4 linked regions of the Homo sapiens genome follow. The protein of the gene in region 1 interacts with the protein of each later gene in a pairwise test. Each region holds a gene or a part of one and is shown on either strand. Other genes may lie near its edges. The genes, in order: TOX, KLK6, DMRTB1 and GRAP.

Region 1 (7,028 bases):
GATTAATTTAATCTGAACAGGGGACATTGCTAAACTCTTGAATTGTTAAACAACTTCTTTCCATAGAGAAACTTAAAAGCAGAAGCAAATGTTATAAATAAGGATTGGAGGCCTCTAAGGCAACTTCAACCTCTGCACTTTCATATGGAATCACAGGAAGCCTGTTCTAGGACATCTAAAAAGTGCCACCTCTATCATACTGGGAGAGTCCTCAGACTGAGGAGTCTGTAGTCTCTGGGGCGGGTGGATCTGGATTCGAATCCCAGGTTTCCCACTTCCTAACTGCATATCTTCATGCAGTTCCTTGTATGTTCTAAGTCTCCATTTACTCAAATGTTAAACAGAGAAGATAATAGGACCTACATCTTAGGGTTTCCATGAGGATAAAATAAGCAAATCTATACAAATTACATGGTTCACTTGAGGACATTATGCTAAATTAAATAAGTCAGTCACAGAAAGACATGTACTGCATGATTCCACTTATAGGAGGTATCTAGAATAGTCAATTTCATAGACTCAAAGAGTGGCACGGTGGTTGCCAGGGCTGGGAGAGGGGGAAATAGGGAGTCAATAATCAACAGGCAGAAAGCATTCCTCAAACCAGATGAATTAGCTCTGGAGATCTGCTGTACAACATTGGACCTAGAGTCAACAATACTGGATTGTACACTTGAAAATTTGTGAAGATGGTAGATCTCATGTTAAGTGTTCTTATCACAATACAATTAAAATTTTTAAAATTCAAAAATTTAAAAAATAAACAGCATGACTCAGCATCCTGAACATAGGAAGCACTTAATAAATATAAGCTATGAGTATTATTATTAATTTTATTTTTAGTATTAGTAGGTATAGAAAGGAGGGGGGAAAGATTTGCATATCATTGAAAATTTAGCTGGATGATATTTTCAATTTGTCTTTATATCAAAGGCTACTTTGATATAAGGAAATTTTAAAAGTGACATTAAAAAGGAAAATTTTGCATCATAGATGCATTTCTTTATAAAGATATGATCTAGATATAAACAAAAATGCATTCATCTATAGTTTTCTTAATTGAAATGATCTTTATGAACCCTGCAAAGAGGTCCAAGGATATATGCTATTATGGAGGCTTGGCCTTCCCATCTTAAGCAATTTTACACGCTATTGAAGGTCATATGGGGTTGGACTGTCAAATAAAGCTTAAGGAAATATAGTTTTTCCATAGACTCGGGAATTCCTAGACATGGATCTAAATTATTATGCTGAAAACAATGTATAACTATAGAGCAATGGAACTAGTTTCATTTTACCACATAGACCAGAATTTATATTCCCAAAATGAGTGTTGCATTCAAAGTAGTCACCTTGGGAGGCTGCAAACTCATTTTATTATTGCTCCCAGAGTTCAAAAAATTTTTGAAACTCCTCTTTTAGAACTGTAGTCAGGAAAAGTTTATGAGCCACATTAGAAAATCAATCTTGTTACATTGTTTTCACACCTCATTCTTTTCCCCAAACATCACCCAGATATAACCCGCAGACTTGGCTTCAAGTGACTATTAGCTGTTTCCAAAAATCAAATTCACCATCAAAAGACAAAGAGTTGTCTGAGGATATGTAAAACAGTGTCTCACAGGCTCTGAAGAGAATTCCAGTAGGGAAGCTCCCAAATATCCCAAATAAAGGCAGCATTATTGAAATAAGTGTACAACTTCTCAGGATTGCCAACCTGGAAGGATATGGCATTTGGATAACTATGTTCTGGTTTATTAAATAAAGGCAATCAGATTCATGATTTTAAGGTCATAACATCAAATATAAGATTTTGTTTCTACCTTAAGGAATAGTTCATGAAGTGCTAAAATTTATAAAGGACAAATGGAAACCTTTTTTTTTTTTAACGTACAGAACAGGACAATATTGAATTAAGTCAAGAAAGTTCTCTGTTTCCATAGTCAGTAGTAAAGAAGCACAATGCTTAGTTCAATTAAAGGAAAGTGGATTTGAAAAAAACAGTTTCTTTTTATAGAATGAGGCAAACTTACAGATACCATGCCATGGTGAGCTATGGAGACAAATATTGAGTCTGAATTTGCAAATGGGATGGATCATTGTATGACTGTTAACGTAAAATTTGCAGCTCTGTAAACCCAGATCGTGATTTAAAGATAATAAAATCTCATGCTTCAGGGTATAAGTTAATCACCTGCATGGAGCAGAAAGAATTTTCCTTCCAGAAGGAGCAATGCACAATTGAGTAGGTGCATAAATTTTGTTTAATTTTCAATGCATTAAGTATCGGTCAGTGCTGAAAACAAGAATCAAATTAGATGGACTATTAATTTGATTTGGTTCAGCAACTCTTATATTGTTCCTTCCACTGATTTTTATGCATTGTATTTATACTTTGCTATTTTAAATAACAATAGCTTTGTCAATCTTTCATTTTTATAGCACATATCATCCCAGAATGGGGAAATTTATACACTATGCAGTATTATCTTCATTATACAAAGTAAATGGGATTGAAGCTACCTTCAGTAATCAACAATTTGGTTAGTAAAAGGTATCTTCAGGCTTATAGAGTTGTATCCTTTATACATTTTGCATATGTCAAAGGAACTCCCTACAGATAATACTCAAAATGTCTCTATGGCCACGACCCCCACTTTATGGCTTGTAGAAAATATCTTCCAGAATCTGTCGTCTAAATGCAAATAGGAAAGAGAACATACTCAGAAACTAACAGCAAGAACACATTCCTTCTGTGAAAGTGTGGGATTCAAAGGTTGATTTTCAGTTGTCTACAAGCTAGGAAACACATTTGTCAGGTGACCAACATGACACTCATTGCTAAATAAAAGTGGTTAATGTGTTTAAAAGTGGAAACAAATGCAAATTACTTAGTATGTATGAGAAAATAGTTCTAATTTCTGAATGATAGGTATAGAAGTCTTCATATGCAATATAATTGATCAGCAAAATTGTAGCCTTGCTTTCACAGTTAAATTGGGAAAAAATGACAGTAAGAGTACATTATGATTTCTATGTATTTTCATTTAATCACATTATGAATTTATGGCAGTTTGCCACTGAAAATGAACTTATTCTACCTATCTTCCAGAACAATAAAATAACTCTGTAATTAATAGATGGTCTATTGTACTAGACTGCTTAATAATTAATGAAAAGCGAAGCCAGAAGCAGGTTTTTCCTCATCTAAATGAGTGGACCATTACATAAACATACAAATTCCCAAAGTATGGGTGAGACTGAACTAGCTGCCCTGCTACTGCCATTCCCCCAAGACCAGTGAGGCATAAAGGGCAGTGTATCTAACCAAAGGACAGAGCGGAAAGCTGTAATTTCTCATCACTTCAGGAAGGGTTTGGGTCCTGCCGAGAGCAGAGAAGAGCATGAGGAAGGTCAATCTAATACTCTGTGGCTTTTCCAAGCCTTCAGATCCTTCCTCACTCCATGGGAAGAGGAACGGTGTGTCTGGTCAAGAGGGCAAGTCAGCAAGGGCAATGGTGGCTGCCTGGAGGATTGCTCAAGAATAGTCATTCACTCCTTAGAAAACATAATTGTGTTTTTATGTATTTTGCACTATGGTAGATGCGTGGGCTACAGAAATTCAAGTCCCTACCATCAAAAAAAGATGCCCTTTTGGAGGAATCAGGACATCTTTGTGAAAAGAGACTACAGGAAAATAACTTATATTGGAGCACCTGCCACGTTCAGGCACAAGGCTGGATACGTTATTTCTGTTGTCACAGTCAATGATTAGAAAATAAAGGGAAAATATATATAACTTCCCCAAATTCTCCCTCCCTCTATGTTAAAAATTATGTTTCAAGTGTTGTCTGAATCATTATCTTTGGAACTCTATTTACTTTGAGTTTGCCAATAGTTATTCTAGTGATTAAAAGTTACTACTCTTTCAAAGTAGGTTGAGGGGGACTGGTCTTTGTGTGCTTTGATATGGAGGACATAAATGACAAATAAGTGGCTAGATAGAGAAAATGTTTTGTGTTTAATTATCCATGAAAAAAGAGAGCTTTACAAGGTTGGTAATAAAGTATCTCAAATTAGGTTGCTATCTGTTCACTTCTGTAAATCTGTACATCTATTCCATCTCTACCTCTGCTTATCTATCATCTCTCTATATGATGGACCACATACAATTATTTAAATAGTAGAATTCAGGAAAATTAAATTCATTGTTTATTTTGAATTCGATATTTTTATTTCTTTAGCCAAAACTTACCTCATTATCTAGTAATATGTTATATATAGAAATTAAAAATGAAAACATTTTTACAGTTACACATATTTTCTACTTTTGATCATACAAGAATGTGAGTGACTTGTATTATTTTTAAATTAAAAACAACACCTATAAAGCAAAAAATAAAGATGCACCAATATGTATCCATTTTTATAAATATGATTTCTTTCTGGTATGAAGTCAACACAGTCTGTGACTAAATATGAAACTAGCCCTTCTGCAATAGGCTAAAAAGAGGGAATTCAAACATACCGAACACTTTTCCAGATTACTTAAACACACAGACTTAACACATAATCTTTCTGGCATATACGGAATAATTTTTGAGGCATATGAATTGCAGTACATGTTATTCTGATGTGGAAGTAGTCACTGTTTACACAGGCTCGATTAACCCATTTGACCTTTTCCTTGAATTGTTAACTATTTTGCACATCAACAATAAGAATTTTTAAATGGAAGCCAAAAAAAATCTACTTAAAACTTGTTTTTTTTTTTTAATGAAAAGCACCTCTTAGGAGCTACATTTAATAAAGCTTCTTTGATCTAAAACCTCCCCTTAAAATTTTTGCATGAACAGTTTTTGATGTTTTTAATGTTAATACTGAAGACAGGGAGTCTATATGTTTGTTCCTATTTCAGAAAGCTGCATCAACAGTGTGACACAGGGGAAAATGTCAGAATGAGAGGACTCTCCAAAGGGGCTGGAATTATTTCAGTACACCTTACTTTATACTGTGCGTGGAGTATTCAGAGTCTCACAGGACCCCAGGTTTCCATGGTTTGGCATACTTTTACAGGTGTCAGATGTGTCCTTTCTATAATGACAGAACGTGGGGCTGATCGTCCACCCACCCCAGCCTGTCCCCGTCACCCCAGGAGTCAGCAGACATACACAGCATCATTCTTACTGTGGTTTTCATGAAACTTGACTGCATTATTGAAGACAAATGAGTTGTGTTGCTAACCGTAATGTAAGCTGCCTGGTGATAATGAAGCTACCCGGCCTGAGTTTCACGCTGTCGTGCATGATGAACCCGTTTCTCTAAGGGCCTGTCAGTGGGTTGCCCGGTGGTGCATTGAGCAGAAGGACCCCGAGAGCCCTCATGGCACAGTTCTCCCTGCAGTGTGGAAAGTAGTAAGAAACTCACTTTGACTTGAAAGCTGAATAAGCATGACATTGAGATTGCAGAGTAAAAGCATATATGCGTCCTCAAGACCTTGTTTTGACAAAGTGATTTTTTTTCTCCAATCCATTTTATCACTTTTTTCCTTCCAGTTGGTTCTACCTGCTACCTTTGGTTGTTTTATCAGTCTCTTCCTCTCAGGAAATGTAGGAGGTAGGTTCAGGCCCATGAGGAATTGCCACAGGGTTAATTCTTGATTCTTTTCAGCCTTTACTGAAATGTTCAGTTTTAAAATCAATTAAAATATTATTAGGAAATGATCATATGAAGGTGCGGAAAAAATTAGGGCAAAATTATATTAATTTATGATGGAGTCTAAAATTTCTAAGAGAGATTATTTTTATCTACTTCATTATGGAGGACAATTCATCACCAACTTCATTTTAAAACTCAGGATAAGTTCTGCAGTTACTTTGAAGAGTATATTAATGTAGTTTTATATGACTTCAGAAAGGTATTTTAGAACTCTGTTCTCCCATATCCATTTCCATCAACCAGCTTTGTTTTCTTTGTGCAAATATCTAGGCCAAGTCTCTTTGAGAATATAAAAAAGGAAAAATTAAAAACTAAACCTATAATCTATAGAAGAACTCCAGAACTGATTTGCTTTGAAAGTAATCTTCACGTGTGTTTCCCATTTGGGCATTCACGGCATCTGCCTTCTCCCGTCCCCCACCCTCCACAAACCCATCTTGTCACCCTCATTTGGATAATGAGAAAAGTCACCGAGTTAAAAACATTTAGGCAAAGGAACAAAATGTCATTGCAGATTGTTTTCAATTTCCTAAAAGGGATAGAAGCTGTCTTCTATAAATCACATTACAAATAATGGTGAAGAAATTCTTAGATCAGAGAGTCCGGGATAGTCATGGGTATGGATTCCAGGGAAGGTGCTTTAATAAACTCACAAAGCGTCATACCTTGAATCAACACTCATGTATCAGCCTCCCAACTCTGCTCATTTATTTCCTCAACAGAGCTACAGTGAACCTGTTGACGTGAAGACATCTCAACCTCCTCAGCTGATCAATTCGAAGCCGTCGGTGTTCCATGGGCCCAGCCAGGCCCACTCGGCCCTGTACCTAAGTTCCCACTATCACCAACAACCGGGAATGAATCCTCACCTAACTGCCATGCATCCTAGTCTCCCCAGGAACATAGCCCCCAAGCCGAATAACCAAATGCCAGTGACTGTCTCTATAGCAAACATGGCTGTGTCCCCTCCTCCTCCCCTCCAGATCAGCCCGCCTCTTCACCAGCATCTCAACATGCAGCAGCACCAGCCGCTCACCATGCAGCAGCCCCTTGGGAACCAGCTCCCCATGCAGGTCCAGTCTGCCTTACACTCACCCACCATGCAGCAAGTAAGTGCAATGGCTCTGGACTTAGAGTGTGCACCCCTATTCTGAAGTGTGGTGGTGGAGGTGGGGGGAGCTGTTTATCCAGGACAGGATTGGGGATATGTGTTTTCTATCCTTCTATTTAAGTCAAGAGAGCACTAAAGATATTCAACAAATATCTGCTTTCTGTAAAATGTAATTTACAAGTGGTGAGTTCGTGTGGCA
Region 2 (7,028 bases), on another chromosome or scaffold:
GTTGGCCAGGCTGGTCTCGAACTCCTGACCTCAGGTGATCCGCCCGCCTCGCCCTCCCAAAGAGCTGGGATTACAGGCATGAGCCACCACCACACCCAGCCTGATTTACATTTTTACAAGCACCCTGGCTACCACGTGGAACGTGGTCTGGGCAAGAGAGAGGGAGGGAGGCCCACGTGGGGGCTGTTGCTTTCATCCGGCGACATAGGAGGGTGGCTTGAACCCAGGCGGTCGCAGTGGGGATGGAGGGATGTTGAATATCTTGGGATGTGGAATTCTGAGACTGAGCCAGCAGAATCTGGCAACGAGGAACAGGAGGGAGAGGAAGAAGCACGGCTGGCTTCCGTGTATTTGTCCTGAACAACTGGGTGTTTTGCCACGTCTTTCTCTGAGTTGTGGGAGAGGGAAAGAGAAACAGGCCGGGTGTAGGCAGGGGAGCATCTGACATTTTGCTTTAGCCACGATGAGTTGGAGATGCCGGGGAGATGTCCCAGCAGGGAGGCCAGGGAGGACTCTGGAGCTCAGAGGAGAGGTCAGGGCTGGAGGTTAAAATGAAGGCATCGTCAGCAAACAGGTGTATTTAAAGCCATGGGACTAGATGAGATCATCCAAAAAGCTGGCATAGTTGGAGGAGCTGGAGGGCCCAGGACAAAAACCCTGGGCGCTGATCCTCACTAGTCAGATTCACGACAGCTGCCACTTGTTTGATGCTAACTACCAATCAGGTGCTGAGTGAAACCATGTACACACCTTTCCTGGAATGCCCACCACAAGGGACTCTTGGCACCATTTTGCAAATGAGGAAACTGAGGTGCAGGGAAATAGCAAGTGACAATCCCTGGGGTGGTTCCCCTGACCCCAAGGAGACCTTGGATGACTCTCACCACCATCATTCATTCCTTTGATGTACATTGACTAAGAGCACCTGCTAAGTGCCACATTCGAGTTGGGCAGTGGAGATTCAGCAATGGATGGGACACACACGTCATCCCTGCCCTCGGGAGCACAAGGACAGAAAGGTGCAGACAAGCAAAGTGAGGGCTGGGCATGGTGGCTCACGCCTGTAATCCCAGCACTTTGGGAGGCCGAGGTGGGTGGATTACCTGAGTTCGAGACCAGCTTGGCCAACATGGCTCAACCCTGTCTCTACTGAAAATACAAAAAATTAGCCAGGCGTGGTGGTGGGCTTCTGTAATTCCAGCAACTTGGGAGGCTAAGGCAGGAGAATTGCTTGAACGTGGGAGGCGGAGGTTGCAGTGAGCCGAGATCGCGCCACTGCACTCCAGCCTGAACCACAGAGCGAGACTCTGTCTAAAAAAAAAAAAAGGAAAGAAAGAAGCAGCAAATTGGGCTGGCCGTGGTGGCTCATGCCTGTAATCCCAGCACTTTGGGAGGCCGAGGCGGGTGGATCACTCGAGCCCAGGAGTACAAAGCTGCAGTGAGCTGTGATCTACAGAACACCACTGCAGATCCAGCCTGGGTGACAGAGCGAGACCCTGTCTCAAAAAAACAAACAAACAAAAGAAGCAAACCCTTCAAAACCCCATATAATTACAAATTATGAAGGAAAAGAATACGGGTACCTACTTTAGATGGAGGAGGGTCAGGAAGGACTTTCTAATGAGATAAAATCCAAGCGGAGGCATGAAGATGGGAAAAGGAATGTTCAGGGCAGAGGAAAGGCTGTGATAACACCCCTGAGGTGAGAACCGTCTTGAGTATTCTCAGAAAATAAAATTTCCCGTTCACTGGGGGGCAGAAGGTGCTGGGAGATAAGGTTGGAAAGTGACTACAGCCAGATCACACAGGGGCTCCAGTGCCAAGTGGAGGAGCCCAGGCTTTATTCTTAGGACAATGGGGAGCCATGGGTGATGTCTGAGCAAGGGAGTGACTCTCTGTTTCAGGAATATGTATCAAACACCTATCCTGTGCCAGGTGCTGATCAACGCACTGGAGATACTATATCTGAATAGAACAAAAATCCCCATCTTGACATCCTAGAGCTGCACTGTCTAATATGGTAGCCATCAGCCACATATAGCAAATTACATTGAAATTAATGAAATGGAAAATCCACAAGCCACATTTCAAGTACTCAGCAGCCACCTGTAGCTTGTGGTTCCCCCAGCCACCTCTGGACAGTGCAGATCGAGATCATGGCATCGTAGCATTTAGTGGACAGCATTGCTCTGCAAGGAGGAGAAATAACACAATGAGTAAATATTTAACAATAAATATATAGCAGGTCGGATGATTGTGATAGGTTCTCTGGTGGAACAGAAAGCAGGGGAGGGAGATAGGAATTGCCTACTAACAGGTATTTGTATTTTAATTGGGCAACTAAGGAAGGCTTCCCTGAGAGGCGACATTTAAAGGAAGTGAGGGAGTGAGCTATGCAGATACTTGGAGGACAGACTTGCTGGCAGAGGGAACAGCAGTGCAAAGGCCCTGAGGTGGGAAGATCACTATTGTGTTCAAGGCAAGACAGGGAAGCCAGCGTTTGGCTGGAGCAGAGGGAGAGAAGGGGAGAGTGGGAGGAGAAGATGTCTGTGAGATGATGGGGCAGTGCTTGCAAGGCCTGGTGTGCCACGTTGAGAACTTTGGCTTTGATTCTGAGTGAGATGGGAGTCATAGGAGGGGCTGAGCAGAGGAGGCACAGGACCAACTTACATTGTTAAAATATCTCTGGTTGCTTTGTGGAGGATGGACTGTGGGGGACCAGAGACAGAGCAGGGAGCCCAGTGAGGAGGCTACTGCTCTAGTTCAGGTAGGAAGTGAAAAGGCAGCTCAAACCAAGATGGTAGCCGTGGGAAAGGTGAGATGTGGCCAGATTCTGGATATGCTTCAGAGAGGCAAAAGGAATTCTGGACAGCTTGGATGTAGGGCATGAAATAAAGAGAGTGAAGAATAGCCCCCAAGATTATTCTGAAAGGATGGAATTGCCATTTACCCAGCTGGGGAAGACTGTGGGAGGAGCAGGCCAGCGATTCATGACTTCCCAGCCCTCTCTGAAGCCTCAACTGCAGCCCAAGGGCTCCAGGTGAGACCCAGCCCTCTTCCTTCCCAGGAATCTTCAGGTCTTCCTGGGGAAGCATAACCTTCGGCAAAGGGAGAGTTCCCAGGAGCAGAGTTCTGTTGTCCGGGCTGTGATCCACCCTGACTATGATGCCGCCAGCCATGACCAGGACATCATGCTGTTGCGCCTGGCACGCCCAGCCAAACTCTCTGAACTCATCCAGCCCCTTCCCCTGGAGAGGGACTGCTCAGCCAACACCACCAGCTGCCACATCCTGGGCTGGGGCAAGACAGCAGATGGTCAGTAGTGGGAGGCTGGTGGGGAGCAGGCTACTGGCTACTTGGGGAAGTGTGCCAAAGGATGGGGAGTGGGAAAATTGGTGAGGGGCCATGGGAAGATGGGCTAATGGTGAGGACCAATGGGACAGGGTTTCAATGGGAGAAAGGTCAAGGGGGAGGGAGAGTGAATTTGGGAGCTGGGCCAGTGAGTGAACAGCCAATGGAAAATGTAGACCAATGGGTGAATAGCATGGGAGAGATGGAACATAAGATGAAGGTTCAATAAAGAGGGAAGGTCAGTGGGGAGATGCTAATCAGGAAGGATGTCAAAGGTCAAAGGGGACTGATCAGGATTCATTGAACAGCAGGAAGGAATAATGGAGAAGGAACTGATGGAAGAAGAGAAACCAATAAAGCACAAAAGCCAACTGAAGGATGTGAATTGAGACAGTGAATGGGGGTATAGCTGATGGAAGAGGGACTAAGGGGAAAGGATCAATGGTCCAGAGGAGTCACTAGAGGAAAAAACAGGTCCAATAGATCAGCAGGATCCATGAAGGTGGGCCTGTGTGTGAAGGGCCAATAAGAAAGGTGAACCATTGGATGAAGGGCCAGTGGGAAGGCAGAGACAATGGGGGAGGATGCGGCAAGTTAGAAAAGGACCAATGAGGGAGGTGGACCATTGGATGAAGGGCTAATAGGAAGGGAGAGCCAGTGGGGGATGGTGAGGCCAGTTAGAAAAGGACCAAGGAGGGAAGCAGACCAATAGGAAGAGAGAGCCAATGAGGGAGGGCAGGGCCAGTTAGGAAAGGACCAATGAGGAAGGTAGACCATTGGAGGAAGGGCCAATAGAAAGGGAGGATCCATGAGGGAGGGTGGGGACAGTTAGAAAAGGACCAATGATGGAGGTGGACCATTGGATGAAGAACCAATAGAAAGGAAGAACCAATGGGAGAGGGCATGGCCAGTTAGGAAAAGACCAATGGTCACAGAGTGACCAATCAAGATGAATCAATGGGCAGGAAGTGTCCAATGAAGAATGGACTACTGATCAGGAGGGGTACAGTAGAGGAGGGCGTAACAGAGGAAGAGTCCTCCAGGTCAACTGAAACTACTGAAGAAGGTGGGACCAGTGGAAGAGAGAAAAGTGGAGGAGGGACCTAAGAGAAAAGGAAAACCAATAGGAAATGAGGACTCCTGGAGAAGAGACTATTAATGAGGAAGACAGCCAATGGGGGGGAAGAATGATAGAAAGAGGGACCAATTAGGAGGCAGGGACGATGGTAATGAGATGTAAGAATGAGAGACAAACAGGAAGAGGGGTGCCAATAGAAAAGAGGGACCAATAGAGGATGGAGGACTTATAGGGGTTGGGGGGTGACTGGGGAGGATGAGGGGAGTGCAAGGCCTGGGCTGAGTCTGGCCCATCTCTCCCCTAACAGGTGATTTCCCTGACACCATCCAGTGTGCATACATCCACCTGGTGTCCCGTGAGGAGTGTGAGCATGCCTACCCTGGCCAGATCACCCAGAACATGTTGTGTGCTGGGGATGAGAAGTACGGGAAGGATTCCTGCCAGGTGAGGTGACCCGGATCTGCCACTTACACAGCCAGGGACAGGACGAAGTCACAAAAACATGGCCAGACACAGGAAGAGAGAGACACAGGCCAAAAGAGAGCTTTACAGAGACAGATAGAGACAGGCTGAGGGAGAACCCAAGCCTTGAAAAGAAGAGACTTAGTTCAACACACAGAGACACAGTCAGGGATATGCAGAGATATAAAGACACAGCCAGCAGAGACAGGAAGTGCAGAGACAAGGATGGAGGCCGCGGGATCAAGAACCAGAGAGGCCAGGAGCAGCGGCTCATGCCTGTAATCCCGGCACTTTGGGAGGCCGAAGCAGGAGGATCACCTAGGGTCAGGAGTTCGAGACCAGCCTGATCAACATGGTGAAACCCTATCTCTACTAAAAATACAAAAATTAGGATGGGCACAGTGGCTCATGCCTGTAATCCCAGCACCTTGGGAGGCCGAAGCAGGAGGATCACCTGGGGTCAGGAGTTCGAGACCAGCCTGATCAACATGGTGAAACCCTATCTCTACTAAAAATACAAAAATTAGGATGGGCACAGTGGCTCATGCCTGTAATCCCAGCACCTTGGGAGGCCGAAGCAGGAGGATCACCTGGGGTCAGGAGTTCGAGACCAGCCTGATCAACATGGTGAAACCCTATCTCTACTAAAAATACAAAAATTAGGATGGGCACAGTGGCTCATGCCTGTAATCCCAGCACCTTGGGAGGCCGAGGTGGGTGAATAACCAGGTCAAGAGATTGAGACCAGCCTGGCCGATATGGGGAAACCTCATCTCTACTAAAAATACAAAAATTAGCTGGGCGTGGTGGCAGGCGCCTGTAGTCCCAGCTACTCAGGAGGCTGTGGCAGGAGAATCACTTGAACCTGGAGGCGGAGGTTGTTGCAGTGAGTCGAGATCATGCTACTGCACTCCAGCCTGGCAACAGAGCAAGATTCCGTCTCAAAAAAAAACCAAAAAACAAAAATTACGCAAGCATGGTGGGACACACCTGTAGTCCCAGCTACTCGGGAGGCTGAGGCTGGAGAATTGCTTAAACCCAGGAGGCAGAGGCTGCAGTGAGCTGAGATCACGCCACTGCACTCCAGCCTGGGGACAGAGCCAGACTCTGTCTAAAAACAAAAAGAACCAAAGAGAAGTAGTAAGGAAGCAGATGGTGTGAGGGGACTGTCCTTCCTCAAACAGAGCCCCCACGAGTCCTGCTCAGAAACGACCAGGCTCTGGAGGAGGGAGACACTAGCTGGGGAAAGGGGACTCCCTCCCGAATACTTTAACTTGGGTTTCCTCCATTGTCATCCATCCAGGCTCTCCTCTTTATGCCAGAATGACTAATGCACTGAGGGATGTGCAGAGACCAACCAAGGGGGAGACACAGGCAGAAACGGAGACACAGGCAGAAACAGGGACAGAGACAGGGAAAGCGATACATAGCAAGTTGGACGCAAAGAAAGGGCAGGTGGGCGAGACTGTCCTCAAGACACGAGGTGGAGAGGTGTCCCTGGACAGAATAGTGCCAGGCATATCTCTCCCTGGGCCCTCCCTACCTCTCCCACCTGGGTCTTATCGTCTCCTCCTCCCCCTCCTCCCCCTCCCCATCCTCCTCCCCCTCTCCATCCTCCTCCCCCTCCCCATCCTCCTCCCCCTCCTCCTCCCCCTCCTCCTCCCCCCTCCTCTCCCTCCTCCTCCTCGTCTTCCCCCTCCTCCTCCTCCTTCTCCTCTTCCTTCTCCTCTTCCTCCTCCTCGTTCTCCTCTTCCTCCTCCTCCTCTTCCTCCTCCCCCTTTTCCTCCTCCTCCTTTTCCTCCTCTTCTCCTCCTCTTCCTTCTCCTCCTCCTCTTCCTCCTCCTCCTCTTCCTCCTCCTCCTCTTCCTCCTCCTCTTCTTCCTCCTTCTTCTCCTCTTCCTCCTCCTCTTCCTCCTCCTCCTTCTCCTCTTCCTCCTCCTCTTCCTCCTCCTCCTCCTTCTCCTCTTCCTCCTCCTCTTCCTCCTCCTCCTCTTCCTCCTCCTCTTCCTCCTCTCCTTCTCCTCTTCCTCCTCCTTCTCCTCTTCCTCCTCCTCTCTCTCCATCGGTCTCTACACCTCTGCCTCTCTCCACACCTCTCAGTCTCCATTCTTAAATTGTTTCTCTTTCTTGCTCTCTA
Region 3 (5,618 bases), on another chromosome or scaffold:
GTCTCTCCCACTAGATGTCATGTTCCTCATGGGCAGAGCTGGGAACTGTCAAGTTCTGAATCTAGTAGAAACACAGGATGTTTTCTAAATGAAGGTATAAATGCAACCAATGGAAGAAGCCGAGGACCCTAAAACAGAATTGGTTCAAGTTCTGTTTTTTTAAATGCATGTTCCTATGCAGGGACTATGGAAGGAGCTGGAGGAAGGAAACTAAGACATCTTTACATTTTGTGTGTCTACATCAGATTTCCTTAAAAGGTCTCCATTGCTTAAAATAACAACAGTAATAATAAAGAAGTCTACTAGCCTGGCCCAATCCCCTCACTTGATAAAGAAAGGGGAGGTAGAACAGGGAGGGCAGGAACTAAAAATAGGAACTAAGCAAGTGCAGACAAGGCCAGCCACAGGCCACAAACCAAGGCCCCCAATCTCCCCAACTCAGGCTCCTGCCAACCCTACCTTCCACCAGGATCAAAGGGAGAATAAGCCTTCCACAAGGATTTCCATTGCTCATTTTATTTCAATAGCCAACTGTCCTCACAGAAGAAACTGTTCATGTCACAGGTGATCAGAAGCACCATTCTATTCCCTAGGGACTGCATCAGTGCTTATGAACAGCCTACTTTTTAAAGTTGGCAATCACTATAAAAACATCAAATAGTCAAACTAATAAATTTTTTAAAACCAGTGCCCATAATGGCTGAAACTTTATGGAGGGGGAATGAAGTAGCCCCAGCAGCCAGGATGCTTGCTAGTAAAACCCCTTAGAGGAGGGGCAAGGGGCTGTGGCCAGGAAGATGTGGGGGACAGAGCAGCAAGGCAGGATGCTGCAGAACCTGCTGTCAACGACCCTGGTCCTGGCTGCTGGCTCCAGCCACCTGGATGAACTGGAATCTTGATGTCTGTGGTGCCCCCAGCAACCTGGAGGACCAGGCAAAGGCAGCAGAAGGCTGAAATAGATGGTGCCTCCTGTCCTAGAGTGGGGCCTGAGGAAATCAAATACTGCCTCTGGGGCTTGTTCCAATAAATGGTAGTGTAACCCAAGGACAGTTAAATTCATTCCTAAATGGGAGCTTCTCCCAGCGCCCACTCCTCAGAGCCCTGGCCCTCCCCTGGTAATAGCTTCCTCCACACTCTTCTTCAACTGTACAGCGCAGGATTGAAACTTAGAAATTGCTCTCCTTCCTCCTATCTTAAACTGGGAATCAGTTGCCATCTATGCTATCAACCTCCTTCCTCCCTACATATCACTGAATGAAGACAAGAAAACTGTTGCTGTTGCCCCCCAGTGCCCCACTCTGCTGGCCAGGAGGGCGGGCCTGGGGCCTAGTCGGACTGCTCCTGAGACGATGGCTGGCTGGGCTCACCCGACAGTACCTCTGCATCCTGGTCATCTGTGAAGGACAAAGAAGGTAGCTGGATTTAGAAAGAGCGAAAATTACAACTACCTATTTGCAGATGAAGATTTTCTTTTTTCTTATTTTATTTTAATTTTTTTGAGACAGAGTCTCGCTCTGTCACCCAGGCTGGAGTGCAGTGGTGTAATCTCAGCTCACCGCAACCTCCACCTCCCAGGTTCAAGCAATTCTCCTGCCTCGGCCTCCTGAGTAGCTGGGATTACAGGCACCCGCCAACATGCCCAGTTAATTTTTGTATTTTTAGTAGAGACAGGGTTGCCCCATGTTGGCCAGGCTGGTCTTGAACTCCTGACCTCAGGTGATCCACCCACCTCACCCTCCCCAAAGTGCTGGGATCACAGGTGTGAGTCACTGTGCCCAGCCCAGATACAGATTTTCCATAAGCCTTTCTCATCATTCCCAGCCCTAGGGGAGAATGTATTTTCTTTAACTTGTTAGGCGCCAGGAGCCTGGAATCCTAGCCTTGGCCATGTGATTCAGATTCAAGTTCCAGCTCTTGCTCTGCTCGTCACAAGCTGGGAGGAATTAGCAAGATACTCCACAGCTCTGAACCTCAGCTTCCCCTTCTGTAAAATGAGACGTATCCACCTTGCAATGGCAGCATGGGCACTAAGTGAAACAGACAGTGATAGGCCACCTTCACCAATGCCTTCATCACTTCAGGTTCTGTTTAATCCTCAGAATCCTCATGAGGTAGGGACCATTATTAGTCTCCTTTTACACATGATGAAACTGGAGCACCAAAGAGTAAATGAGCTTGCTCAAGTTACACAGCTGGGCAAGTGCTGGAGCCAGGACTCACACCCAGGCCACCCAGCACTGGGGCCAGTGGTTTTCAGCCACATGAAACCACCTCTCCAGCTACTGGATCTAGGCACTGCACACACAGGAAGTGTGCAACAGGCCTCAGTTTCCTCTTCAGTAAAATGGTGATACCACCAGACTCCTCTAGCTCATAAGATGGTCTGACAGTCATTTTAAAGGCCTAGTTGAGTTTGTCAGTTCTTTCCAAATCATAGGAGCCCCAGGGGAAGACTGAAAGGAAAAATGTCCTAGAAGCTTTAAAGCTGCAAGGGCCCTCAAAAGAAAACCCAAAACATTTTCACATCCAAAAGTTTCTTCGACCCTCACAGTAACCTAGTAAGGGGGCCCCTTTTATAGTTGAAAAGCCTCAGTGCCCAGGATCATCCAGTGCCCCAGTGGCAGAGCTTGTGAAGGACAGATTCTCTAGCTCCTGGTCTGGTTCCCTCAGAGTGGCCTGGGGCAGAGGCACAGCCCCACCACACGGGTTCCTGCTGCTGCTCCAGTCTCTCCATCTGCTCCCCTACCCCAGCTAGAGAGGCCTGGCACCTCTGGTCTTCCAAACACACCATATGCCTGCTGTCTTCCACAGCACCGCCCACGAGCCAATAAGGTGAGTGAACAGGCACTAGACTGGGAGCTAGACTGAAAAACTCTGTTCAAATCCCAGCTCTGCCATTTATACCCAAGAGAACTGCTGGAGGCCCTGGTTTCCTCACCTGGAATCCCATTCCCACCTCCCTTAGATGTGTGCCTATGGGGACTGGAGGAAGGGTGTAAGAAGGAGCTCATTCTAGGGCTCAACACCCTTTAAATTCCATGTCCCTTCTCTCCACACCTAACCTTTCTTCAGATTAGGTACCTCTTCCTCCAGAAAGTCTCCCTGGCTCTCGCTGAAGCTGGAAGACTGGAGCTCACTCACCAGTGTTCTCCTTGTCAGTATCAAACAGGACGGTCAGTGAGAAAGATGATGGAGGTGGTGGTGGCGGTGGCGGGGGGAGGAAGTGGAGCGCAGAGAGGTAGCCTGGCGGGAGGAACTGGGGCTGCGGTGGAAGCGGTGGAAGGGGCGGCAGTGGCGGCGGCGGCGGCGGCAGGTAGTAGCTTGGCTGGAAGTCTCCTCCTGGTTCTGACACCTGCACGGCACACACAGCAGAGAGGCGGAGAGGAGAGAGAGTTAGCCAGATGGGCTGACCAAACATAGCTCTCACCCCTGAAGTGGGGGGCTCCTGATGGGGTAGATGCACGGCCCCAAACACACAGGCACAGGGCATTTGGAAGGGGGCATTCAGCAAACACCTGCCAAATTATTGAAGGCAAGAAGGAACACAGGCAACCTCAGATAAGCATGGGAACAGCTGAACGGTCACAGTGACAGAGCCCTTCTGTATATGCCAGGGCGATTGTGCTTGGGTGCTCAGAATCCTAGGCGGTGGGTTCTATTACTATTCTTGCTGTAATTATGAAAAACAGGTTCAGTGAGATGAAGCTACAGGCCCAGGGCCGCAGAGCTGCTTTGTGGTTAAGGGGCAGAACTGGATCCCAAGTTGGCTGACTCCATAGCCCACTCAGCTGACTTCTGTCCAGCGCTGCTCTGCACTGGGGAAGGGTCTGAACGCATCCCAACCCCACAGGACCCCCTGTCTGGCACATGTGGTGACTTAAACTCAAGTGCCAGGGGGGCCTTTGGGAGAAGAGGTTGGCAATGTGGGTGTAGCGCAGCTGTTTCTGAGGCAAGATACACTGGGTGACTTCAGGCAAGTGGCCTCACTGATGAACATTTTGCTGCTTCTGTCCCTTCTTCAAGGGATGGAATCCAACCCCTTACCACAGCACAGGGCCCCATCAGAGGATCTGGAGAGGGGATGACTGCACAACTCAGAGCTTAACCAAGAAACACACAAATGTCGTAAGAAATAATACTGAGTTTTGGATGTAGTTCCTGTCATTCACTTCTCTATCCAGATGCTTCAGAGCAACACATCCTGAGCTGAGTTTCATGGAGTCCTGGTGTCCTACAAAGTATTTTTTAGTACTCTTAAAAGTGTTCTTTGTTAAGTGAGTTTGAGAAACCCCATATACTGCTCCCCACATTAGTGGGTCACACATGAGCATATTAAAGGCTTGGAAGAGTCTGCAAAAATCTCCTTAGATTAACCCAGCACTTCCTAACTTCGTTCAACCAGCAGGAAGGGAAGAAATCTCACTTTTAAGTACCTACTATGTGCCAGACCCTGTGCTAGGTATTTTACATGCATCGCCTTATCTATTCTCAGGAGCCCTAATAGATAGGTCCTCTCACTCCCATTTTACAGACCAAGACCCGAGTGAGGTCCTCAGAGGTCAGATAACTGCCACGGGTCACGTGGCTGGGACACGACGGGGGAGGCAGAATTGGACCCTAGGTCTGCCCACCTCCAGGGCCAGTGCTGTCCTGTGAACAGGAGGGCAGAGGAAGCCAAGCAGCAGCAGGTGGGCAGGGACAGGAACAGGAAGGAGGAAACTGTTCTGGAGAGCACCTCCAAGCCTTGGCAGGGGGCAGCAGGACAAGGATGAAAGTGATTCAGGGGCTCTTGGGTTTGAAACAGCTCACAAATCAATGCCTGATTCTCTCTCCAGACTTGAGAGGGTGGAAGAGGGATTATTAGTGCTTTAATTCCAAGCTTCTCAGCCAAGCATCTCCCTGGATCACAGCTCCTGCCTGGGGCCTGTGGTGGCAGCTCAGGCCCAGATAAACCGACTGAGATCACACTCTTAACAAAGGCCGTCTGGCAGGCCTGTCAATCAGAGCGCTGCCCTGGACGCCAGGCTCCAGACTTCTGTGTGAGCAGACGGAACGTGCTTTACTTGGCCAGAGCCCCTCTCTTTGTGTGGAGGCTGGAGATGCCTGGCTCTCCCTGGGCAGTGCCCACAGATGTCAGGCAGGCAGCAGTGCTGGTGTGAGTCAAGGGCCATGTGTGTTCTACCTCTGTGGGAGGGAGGGAAGGGCAGTGGAAAGCACCTGGGCTCCAGAGTCAGGGCGACTGAGGTGCACGACCCGGCTCTGTCACCAACCAGCTGTGTAACTGGAATCCCAGTCTCTCTCTCACCAGTTTTGTGACCCTGGCCAAAAACTTAACTTCTCTGAGCCTTTTTTTCTCGATGCTACAATGGGGTATAATACCTGCCTTGAAGGTTCAATAGACACCCTGGAATTATCAAGGCCAGTGGCTTTCAAACTTTCTTCCCTTGAATCAGTGGAAAATGATTTTTAAGCACAATCTCACAACATCTAAGATAAGTGGAAGAGAAGCTGCTGCCGCCAGGCTGAAGCAGGAGTGAGGACCCAGTGACCTGTGTGCCCAACCTGCCCGGGTGAAGCTCGAGCCCCATTGGACTGGCTCCACACTGTGCAGCTAATGA
Region 4 (7,784 bases), on another chromosome or scaffold:
TTCTTTTTCTTTTTTCTTTTTTTTTTTCTTTTTGAGATGGAGTCTCACTCTGTCACCAGGCTGGAGTGCAGTGGCGCAATCTCAGCTCACTGCAACCTCTGCCTCCTGGGTTCAAGCGATTCTCCTGCCTCAGCCTCCCGAGTAGCTGGGACTACAGGTGTGTGCCACCACGCCCAGCTAAATTTTTGTATTTTTAGTAGAGATGGGGTTTCACCATGTTGGCCAGGCTGGTCTCGATCTCTTGACCTCACGTTAACTGATTTCTTACTGTGAACATTGTTTGAAAGCCCCAGACCCTCTGAGACCCGGGAATTCTCACAAGGGAGAGAGGCCAACTCCTCCCTGGAGGAGTATCACTGCTCAAGGTGAGAGGCAGAACTTGGCCTGCCCCTGAGCCTTTGCCCACATGGTGCCCTCCACCCAGGCTGCCGCCCCACTTTACCATCCCAGCCCGATGCAGTTGCTGCTTGATAGTTGTTTACTGAGCACCTACTGTGTGCCAGGCACCCCACGACAGAGCAGGGAACAAGAAGCTCACATTCTAGTAGGCAGAGACAGACCATAAACAAGGGAAGAAACAAATAAGCAAGGTAGTTTAATGGAGCAGTAAGCGCTGTGAAAAATGGACATCAGGTGACAGATGGAGAATGTCTGGTTGGGTGGGAGCAGGGAGATTGTCAACACGGGACAGGTGGGGTGGTCCAGAAAGGCCTCTCTGAAGAAGTGACATGGAAGCTGAGACCCGAATTACAAGAAGGAACCAGCGGTAAGAAAATGTGGGGAACAGTGTCCAAGACGGACGGAACAGCCAGTGCCAAGGCTCTGAGGTGGGGCCAAGCTCTGTCCCTGAAACAGAAAGGAGGCCAGGGTGTCTGGAGCTGAGGGAGGGAGGAGCAGATGTCATAAGATGTACGGGGGAGGACCAGGCTCTGAGTCATGGCCACTGCATGGAGACTGGGCTGGGGAGCAGGGATTGTTGCGGGGAGGCCTTGGGAGCCACCACGCAAGCCCAGGTAAGTGACAATGGAGGCCTGGGCTGGAGGAGGGGCTTCGGGTAGGTTTTGCCAGAGTTGCCGACAAGACAATGACAGGCAGCAGAAAGTAGGTTCAGGGAGCCCAGGGCTGGCTGTGTTGGGTCTGGACCGTCGCCCTTTCCCATGGAGATGTCAAGGTGACATGGGCTTCCTGAGTCTGGGTCTCATCATCCAGGCTGCTCGTGCAGAGATGGGAGTGAAGCCACTAACCACATGCCCCTCCAGCTGGCAACAGCATGGGGGTGCGTGCACCCAGAAACGCCTGGCCTATCAGGGAGGGAGGCTTTGTCCCAGGGAGGTGATGTTTGGGGCCATTTGTCCAGGGTGAGTCCATGAGCCAGAGTTTTCATCCAAGACCAAAGTTCAGATTTCAAGAACGGGCTTCATCGCCCACTCTCCCAGGCTGGACTCAATCTGTAGGCAGGCAGTGCCATGGCAGGGGCTGGCCCACAGGGAGCACTGGAAAATACTTGCTAGACGAGAGGACAGGATGGTCGCGGAGCTCAGCTTCCACCCCAGCCACTTGATCCCTCCAAGCCTGGCTCAACGCCTCCCGCGCACCCCATTCCTATTTCATCACTGCCCCACTCCCTCCCAACACCACACTTGGGTCTAGAGACCTCGAAGTGCTCTCAGATGAGAAACCAAGACTTGGATCCCCGCAGAGGGTCATGCCTTGGGCTCACAGCCCCAGTGCTCAGCCTGGCCCTGTCCCCATCTGGCCACATGTCCACGAGGCCGACAGCCAGCACTGCAGTGACCCCAGGTGCCAGCACCAGCACCCCAGCATAGAGAAGAAGGAATTGCTCCTCCTCCTCTGGACCCCAACCCCCAGCCCAGCCTGTTCAGACCAAGCGCAAGTTCCACAGCCAAAGGGACACGGGTTCAAAACTGACTCCATACCGAGCAGGTCATGTTGCCTCCCTGTGCCTCAGTTTAGTCACCTGTGAAATGGGGGTGCCAGTCCCCATTGCTTAAATGGTACATGAGGTGTGCTGCTGAGTTCGGGGCCTGGCTATAGCAGGGTGATGGCACAGGGAGCTCTCCCGTCTTGTGCTTGAAGCTTGTGGCCAAGGGCAGCGCCCAGGGCTCAGCGCAGAGGAGCATCCAGTCTAACACCCATTGCTCCAGTGGGGAAACTGAGGCCCAGGGAAGGGCAGTCACTTCCCTAGTGTGGTTTACTGGCAGTTCCAGTGCACACGTCTTGGCATGGCCACTCCCAGAATCCTGGGCATGGCTTTCATATGCAAACTTTTAAGCAAGGACATTTCCAGAGACACATTCCACAGGCCCAACTGTCTAGACCGTCTTGGAAGGCTGCAACATCTGTCAAAAGCGGCCCAGACAAGGAGAAATGAACGGTGGTATGACTCTATTTTCCCTTTTCTCCACACTACTGGGAAGCTCATCCTTGACACTTTCATCTTAGCTATTTTAGCCCTACTAGGTTAGCATGTGTACTTATTTCTTTCCTAAGACCTTCTCTCTCTCCCTCTTTCTCGCTCTGTTCTCCATTCCCATACTCTGTCTCTCTCTCTAGCTCTCATTCTCTCCCTCTCTCAACAATTTTCTTTTCAAACTTTTTCCTGGAAAACTGGGGGTTGAACTAACTCCTGCCAGACACTGTGGTAATATCTCATCGAATCCTCACAACAGCCCCAAAGGAGGGTCATTAGTTATCTCCCCATTTCCTAGATGGAGAATCTGAGGCTCCGAGGGAAAAGGTGGCTTGTCCAGAGTCACACAGCCAATAACTGGAGAGGCTGGGCCTGTCTTCCAGGGGCCACAGTCTGCTTGGGACAGTCCCAGGTCCCTGGTTCCTAAATCCACCCCCACCCCGTGTGGGGCCAACTCAGCAGGCTCCAGCCCCCCTACCTTGAGTGTGTCTCCCTTGTTGAAGGCCAGCTCGTCGCTCTCTGTAGCCTGAAAGCTGTACAGGGCCACGGACTCCATGCCGCTGCTCGGGGCTCCAGCAGCTGGGCTCAGAGCTGGGCCGACAGCTTCCTGCTTCCTCTGCAGTCGAGGACGGTCTTCCTTTGTTTTGAGTGCGCGTTTGTTCTTTTGAAGTTGAGACTGAAACTGCTCCTGATGGGGGAGAAACAGGAAACAGACATGTCACAGAGCAGGGAGGGCTTGTGAGCCAGCTCTGTCCCTACCTCAGACCCCAGGTGCCAGGAATGGCCCTTGGGGAGTCTCCCTGAAGCTCTGGGAGTGGGGCCCCCTTGTGCCCATGTTTTATCATCCGTAAAAGTGAGGTGCCTGGAGGAGAAGTGCCAAAGCTGTCCTGCTGGCTCAGGCACTGAGTCTCATGGCACCAGATGCTGGCCTCCCTTCACCAATCTGCCAATGACTCTCCATCTTTTCCTAAACCCTGATGCCTCTTGTGATGCCCTGCCTCCTGCTCCTTCAATCCCAAGCTCCTCACCTGGCATTCAAGGCCCTTGCAATCCACCACCTCCACCTGCCCCTACAAACAGCCCCCATTCTCATCCTTTGTCATCCCCTTCACTCTAAACAAACCCAGGGCTTCAGCCACAGCAAGGGGCCACACCAAACTCTCATTTCAACCCCAGACTTTTGCACACGTGGTTCCTCTGCCTGGTGTTCTCCTCTTTCTGCTCCCAGGAGACTCCTATTCATCCATCAAAGACCAGCTCAGAAGGTACCTCTTCTGGTTTAGACACTGGGCACCTTAGGTGGGACTTAAATCCTAAGGTCAACAAGACTTGTAGGTCGGGCGCGATGGCTCATGCCTATAATCCCAGCACTTTGAGAGGCCAAGATGGGCGGATCACTGGAGGTCAGGAGTTCGAGATCAGCCTGGCCAACATGGTGAAGCCTCATCTCTAATAAAAATACAAAAAATTAGCCTGGCATGGTGGCATGTGCCTGTAATCCCAGCTACTGGGAAGGCTGAGGCACAAGAATCGCTTGAACCCGGGAGGCAGAGGCTGCAGTGAGCCAAGGATCCATCCAGGCTCCAAGCAATCCTCCCACCTCAGCCTCCAGAGTAGCTCGGACTACAGGTGCCCACCACCATGTCTGGCTAATTATTTGTATTTTTAGTAGAGATGGGTTTTCACCATGTTACCAAGGCTGGTCTTGAATTCCTGGACTCAAGCGATCCTCCTGCCTGAGATTGCGCCATTGCACTCCAGCCTGGGTGACAGAGCGAGTCTCCTTCTCAAAAAAAAAAAAAAAAAAAAGAGAATTGTAAATAAATCTCTACCTTTCCTTAGTGGGTTTGTTATGAGCAGTGTTATCGGTGTAGCAATTCTGAAACTGTTTTGCAAGTGTTGCAGGATAGCGCACAAATGGACAAGCACAGCTGTATTGTTTGGAACCAGGGTTCTCCCTGGGAAAGAAGGGAGACACAGACGTGGAAGGAAAACCAGGCAGAGCCCTGTGGTGTTGCATGGACACTGGATGAATCAGTGTGAAGTCACATTGTTTTTTTTCTGTAAAGAAGTTTTTCTTCCTTCATTTATATTAATATAGGCTCATGGTTTCATATTTTAGCCAGTGGATTATAATCCATTACTATTACATTTATTTTGATGCTTAAAATGCCCCTGATTAGGCCAGTGGGGTCTCCTTCAAGCTGTCTCCTTATCCTTTTGACATGGACCCATCATTCTATGAACACACCCTGACCTTCTGGCCAATAATAGAAGAATCGCTTGAACCTGGGAGATGGAAGTTGCAGTGAGCCGAGATCGCACCATTGCACTCTAGCCTGGGTGACACATCAAGACTCCATCTCAAAAAAAAAAAAAAAAATAGTTGAGAGGGAAGAAGAGAAGATGACAGCTGCCCGCCGCCCACTCTGGAGTCCCTGAGCCAACCAGGCAGGATGGAGCTGGCCCTGGCCTCACCCAGCTCCATTCCAGGGCTTCTCCACGCTGCCCTCTACTCAAAGACCCCTGCCTTCTGGCTGCCCCCGACCCCAAGGGTGACAGGATGTTATAAGGCCCCTCTTTCCGGCTCTGTTGCAGCTGAGGTTTCAAAGCCTCAGAATGATGCAATGGAGGGGTTGGGATCGGCCCCCGCCTCAGTTCTGAGGTGCTTCTAGCCATATGAGGGGAGGAGGACTTCCCCTTATGAAGCTGAATGGGTGTCCCCTGGGGCGGTGGGACAGATGCCGGGTTTATTTTTATGTGTTTTAGAAGTATTTATTCTCTGCCAAGTCCTTTACAAAGAGGTAAGTGACCAATAGTTGGTAGGTGGCAGGGCTGGGGTTCAAACCCAGGCAGGCCTGAGGGCCAAACCATGCCTACAACTCCTTCGCCGCATGGCCTCAACCCGAAGGATTCCTGCCCAAGGTGGCTCGGGCCAGAGCTGGGAGCCTGGGCTGCCTACTGTACAGTGAGCTCAAGGAGTGCAGTGAGGTAAGCAGCAAAGCTTTGTTGGAGGGTAAATCTGCCCTGATTCCGGGAGACCAGAGAGGACCCCACAAATGGGACTTGACTGAGAGGACCCTTGAAGAATGCAGCACCCCAAATGAGGCAGACGCTGGGGCCTGGAACGAGGGGCCATCGGAAACTGGAGGCTTGGGCCAGGCGCGGTGGCTCATGCCTGTAATCCCAGCACTTTGGGAGGTCAAGGCAGGCAGATCACTTGAGGCCAGGAGTTCGAGACCAGCCTGACCAACATGGTGAAACCCTGTCTCTACCAAAAATACAAAATTAGGCTGGGCACGGTGGCTCACATCTGCAATCCCAGCACTTTGGGAGGCCGAGGCAGGTGGATCACCTGAGGTTAGGAGTTTGAGACCAGCCTGGCCAACATAGTGAAACCCCGTCTCTACTAAAAATAAAAAATTAGCTAGGCGTGGTGGCGAGTGCCTATAATCCCAGCTATTTGGGAGGCTGAGGCAGGAGAATCACTTGAACCCAGGAGACGGAAGTTGCAGTGAGCCAAGATCATGCCACTGCACTCCAGCCTGGGCGACAAGAGTGAAACTCCATCTCAAAAAATGTATATACAAAATTAGCCGGGAGTGGTGGCGCACGCCTGTAATCCCAGCTACTTGGGAAGCTGAGGCAGGAGAATTGCTTGAACCCAGGAGGCGGAGGTTGCAGTGAGCCGAGATCACCCCATTATACTCCAGCCTGGGCAACAAAAGAGAAACCCTATCTCAAAAAAAAAAAAAAACAAAAAAACAACAAAATAAGGAGTTTTGGAAACCAAGGTTTTATTATGCAGATGAAGCCTCCAGGTAGCTGGCTTCAGAGAGAATATAGTGTAAATGTTTCTTATCAGACTGAAAGAGTCCGTTCTAACAGTAATTCCAAAAGCGAGGAGGTTATAACAAGGCATGTCCAGCTCCCCCTTCCCATCATATCCTGAACTCATTTTCAGGTTAACTTTGGAATGCCCTTGCCGAGAGAAGGAGTCCATTTGGATGGTTAAGGGGCTTAGGATTTTGGTTTTGGTTTATGGAGGTCCCTCAAAAGCTGCTCACAGGAGGAAAACTCATCACTGGCCACAGGCCACACCAGGCCAGGGCAGACCCAGCCACTGTCTCAGTGCTGAAACCCTAACCCCCTGTGATCAGCTGAGTAACAGCCCCGAAGACATCCAGGTCCTGATCTCAAGAACTTGGAACGTTCCCTTATATGACAAGAGGGACTTTGCCGGTGCGATTATGTTAAGGGTCGTGAGATTGGATGGAAACTGCAATTTCAATGCAGTTTGAGTTCTGTAATTAGTAGACTGGGCTAGACTACTGGACCCTGGAACACTCCAAACAGGCTGATTGGGGAACTTTTTATCATCAGAGATTGGCTGAAACACCTGAGAGAACTCCCTGAAAAAAAATTTTTTTGAGACAGAGTTTTGCTTTTGTTGCCTGAACTAGAGTGCAGTGGCATGATCTCAGCTCACTGCAACCTCCGCCTCCCTGTGTCTACTTGAAATACAAAAATTGGCCAGGCATGGTGGCGCACGCCTGTAGTCCCAGCTACTTGGAAATAGAATCACTTGAACCTGGGAGGTGGAGATTGCAGTGAGCAGAGATCGTGCCACTGCACTCCAGCCTGGGTGACAGAGGGAGACTCTGTCTCAGAAAAAAAAAAAAAAAAGAAAGAAAGAAAGAAAAGAAAATGAAGAAACAGGCCAGGCATGGTGGCTCACACCTGTAATCCCAGCACTTTGGGAAGCTGGAGCAGGAGGAATGCTTGAACCCAGGAGTTCAAGACCAGCCTGGACAACATAGTGAGAACCCATCTCTACAAAAATAAACAACAACAAAAATAGGCCAGGCATGGTGGCTCTCACCTGTAATCCCAGCTACTCAGGAGGCTGAGGTGGGAGGATCGTTTCGGTCCTGGATTTCAAGGTGATAGTGAGCTATGATCACACCATTGTACTCCTGCCTCTGAGGACAGAGCGAGACTTTGTCTGGAAAAAAAAAAAGAAAATGCAAATGAAGAAACATGGATTCATGAACATCTATGAATATTTGGTTTAAAAAGGTGAGGCCATGGTGTTTGCACTGAGATCATGGCCCCTCTTGCCCTTCCTCTCAGCTCAGTGAGGCTGAGACTCCACTCTGGACAGCTGCAGCCAAGAACATGGGGTCCCCTGCTGCCTCCAGACCAGGGAAACAGGGCTCCCTCTGCCCCCAGCTCCCAGTGGGAGGGCTTGCCTCCCACGAAGAACAGGACATCCATTTCCTATTCTACCCCCAGCCACCTGTTGCTGAGACTAAGTCCTGGATGAGTGTAGCCAAGAGTTGGGGGCCCCCTT

Evidence for each region.
Region 2: the proteins of TOX (region 1) and KLK6 interact in binary tests that used the Homo sapiens proteins (3 or more experiments, as listed by UniProt).
Region 3: the proteins of TOX (region 1) and DMRTB1 interact in binary tests that used the Homo sapiens proteins (3 or more experiments, as listed by UniProt).
Region 4: the proteins of TOX (region 1) and GRAP interact in binary tests that used the Homo sapiens proteins (3 or more experiments, as listed by UniProt).

Annotation. Positions count from the first base shown.
Region 1 is NC_000008.11:58,815,137-58,822,164, reverse strand, and holds part of TOX (thymocyte selection-associated high mobility group box protein TOX), read left to right. Parts: intron 1-6,440; coding exon 6,441-6,827; intron 6,828-7,028. UniProt on the Homo sapiens protein: Transcriptional regulator with a major role in neural stem cell commitment and corticogenesis as well as in lymphoid cell development and lymphoid tissue organogenesis.
Region 2 is NC_000019.10:50,959,589-50,966,616, reverse strand, and holds part of KLK6 (kallikrein-6 isoform A preproprotein), read left to right. Parts: intron 1-2,106; exon of another isoform or gene 2,107-2,189; intron 2,190-2,950; exon of another isoform or gene 2,951-3,061; intron 3,062-3,067; coding exon 3,068-3,315; intron 3,316-4,736; coding exon 4,737-4,873; intron 4,874-7,028. UniProt on the Homo sapiens protein: Serine protease which exhibits a preference for Arg over Lys in the substrate P1 position and for Ser or Pro in the P2 position.
Region 3 is NC_000001.11:53,462,371-53,467,988, reverse strand, and holds the end of DMRTB1 (doublesex- and mab-3-related transcription factor B1), read right to left. Parts: intron 3,353-5,618; coding exon 3,142-3,352; intron 1,395-3,141; coding exon 1,327-1,394; 3' UTR 501-1,326; downstream 1-500.
Region 4 is NC_000017.11:19,043,940-19,051,723, forward strand, and holds the start of GRAP (GRB2-related adapter protein), read right to left. Parts: upstream 3,019-7,784; 5' UTR 2,988-3,018; coding exon 2,910-2,987; intron 1-2,909. UniProt on the Homo sapiens protein: Couples signals from receptor and cytoplasmic tyrosine kinases to the Ras signaling pathway. Plays a role in the inner ear and in hearing.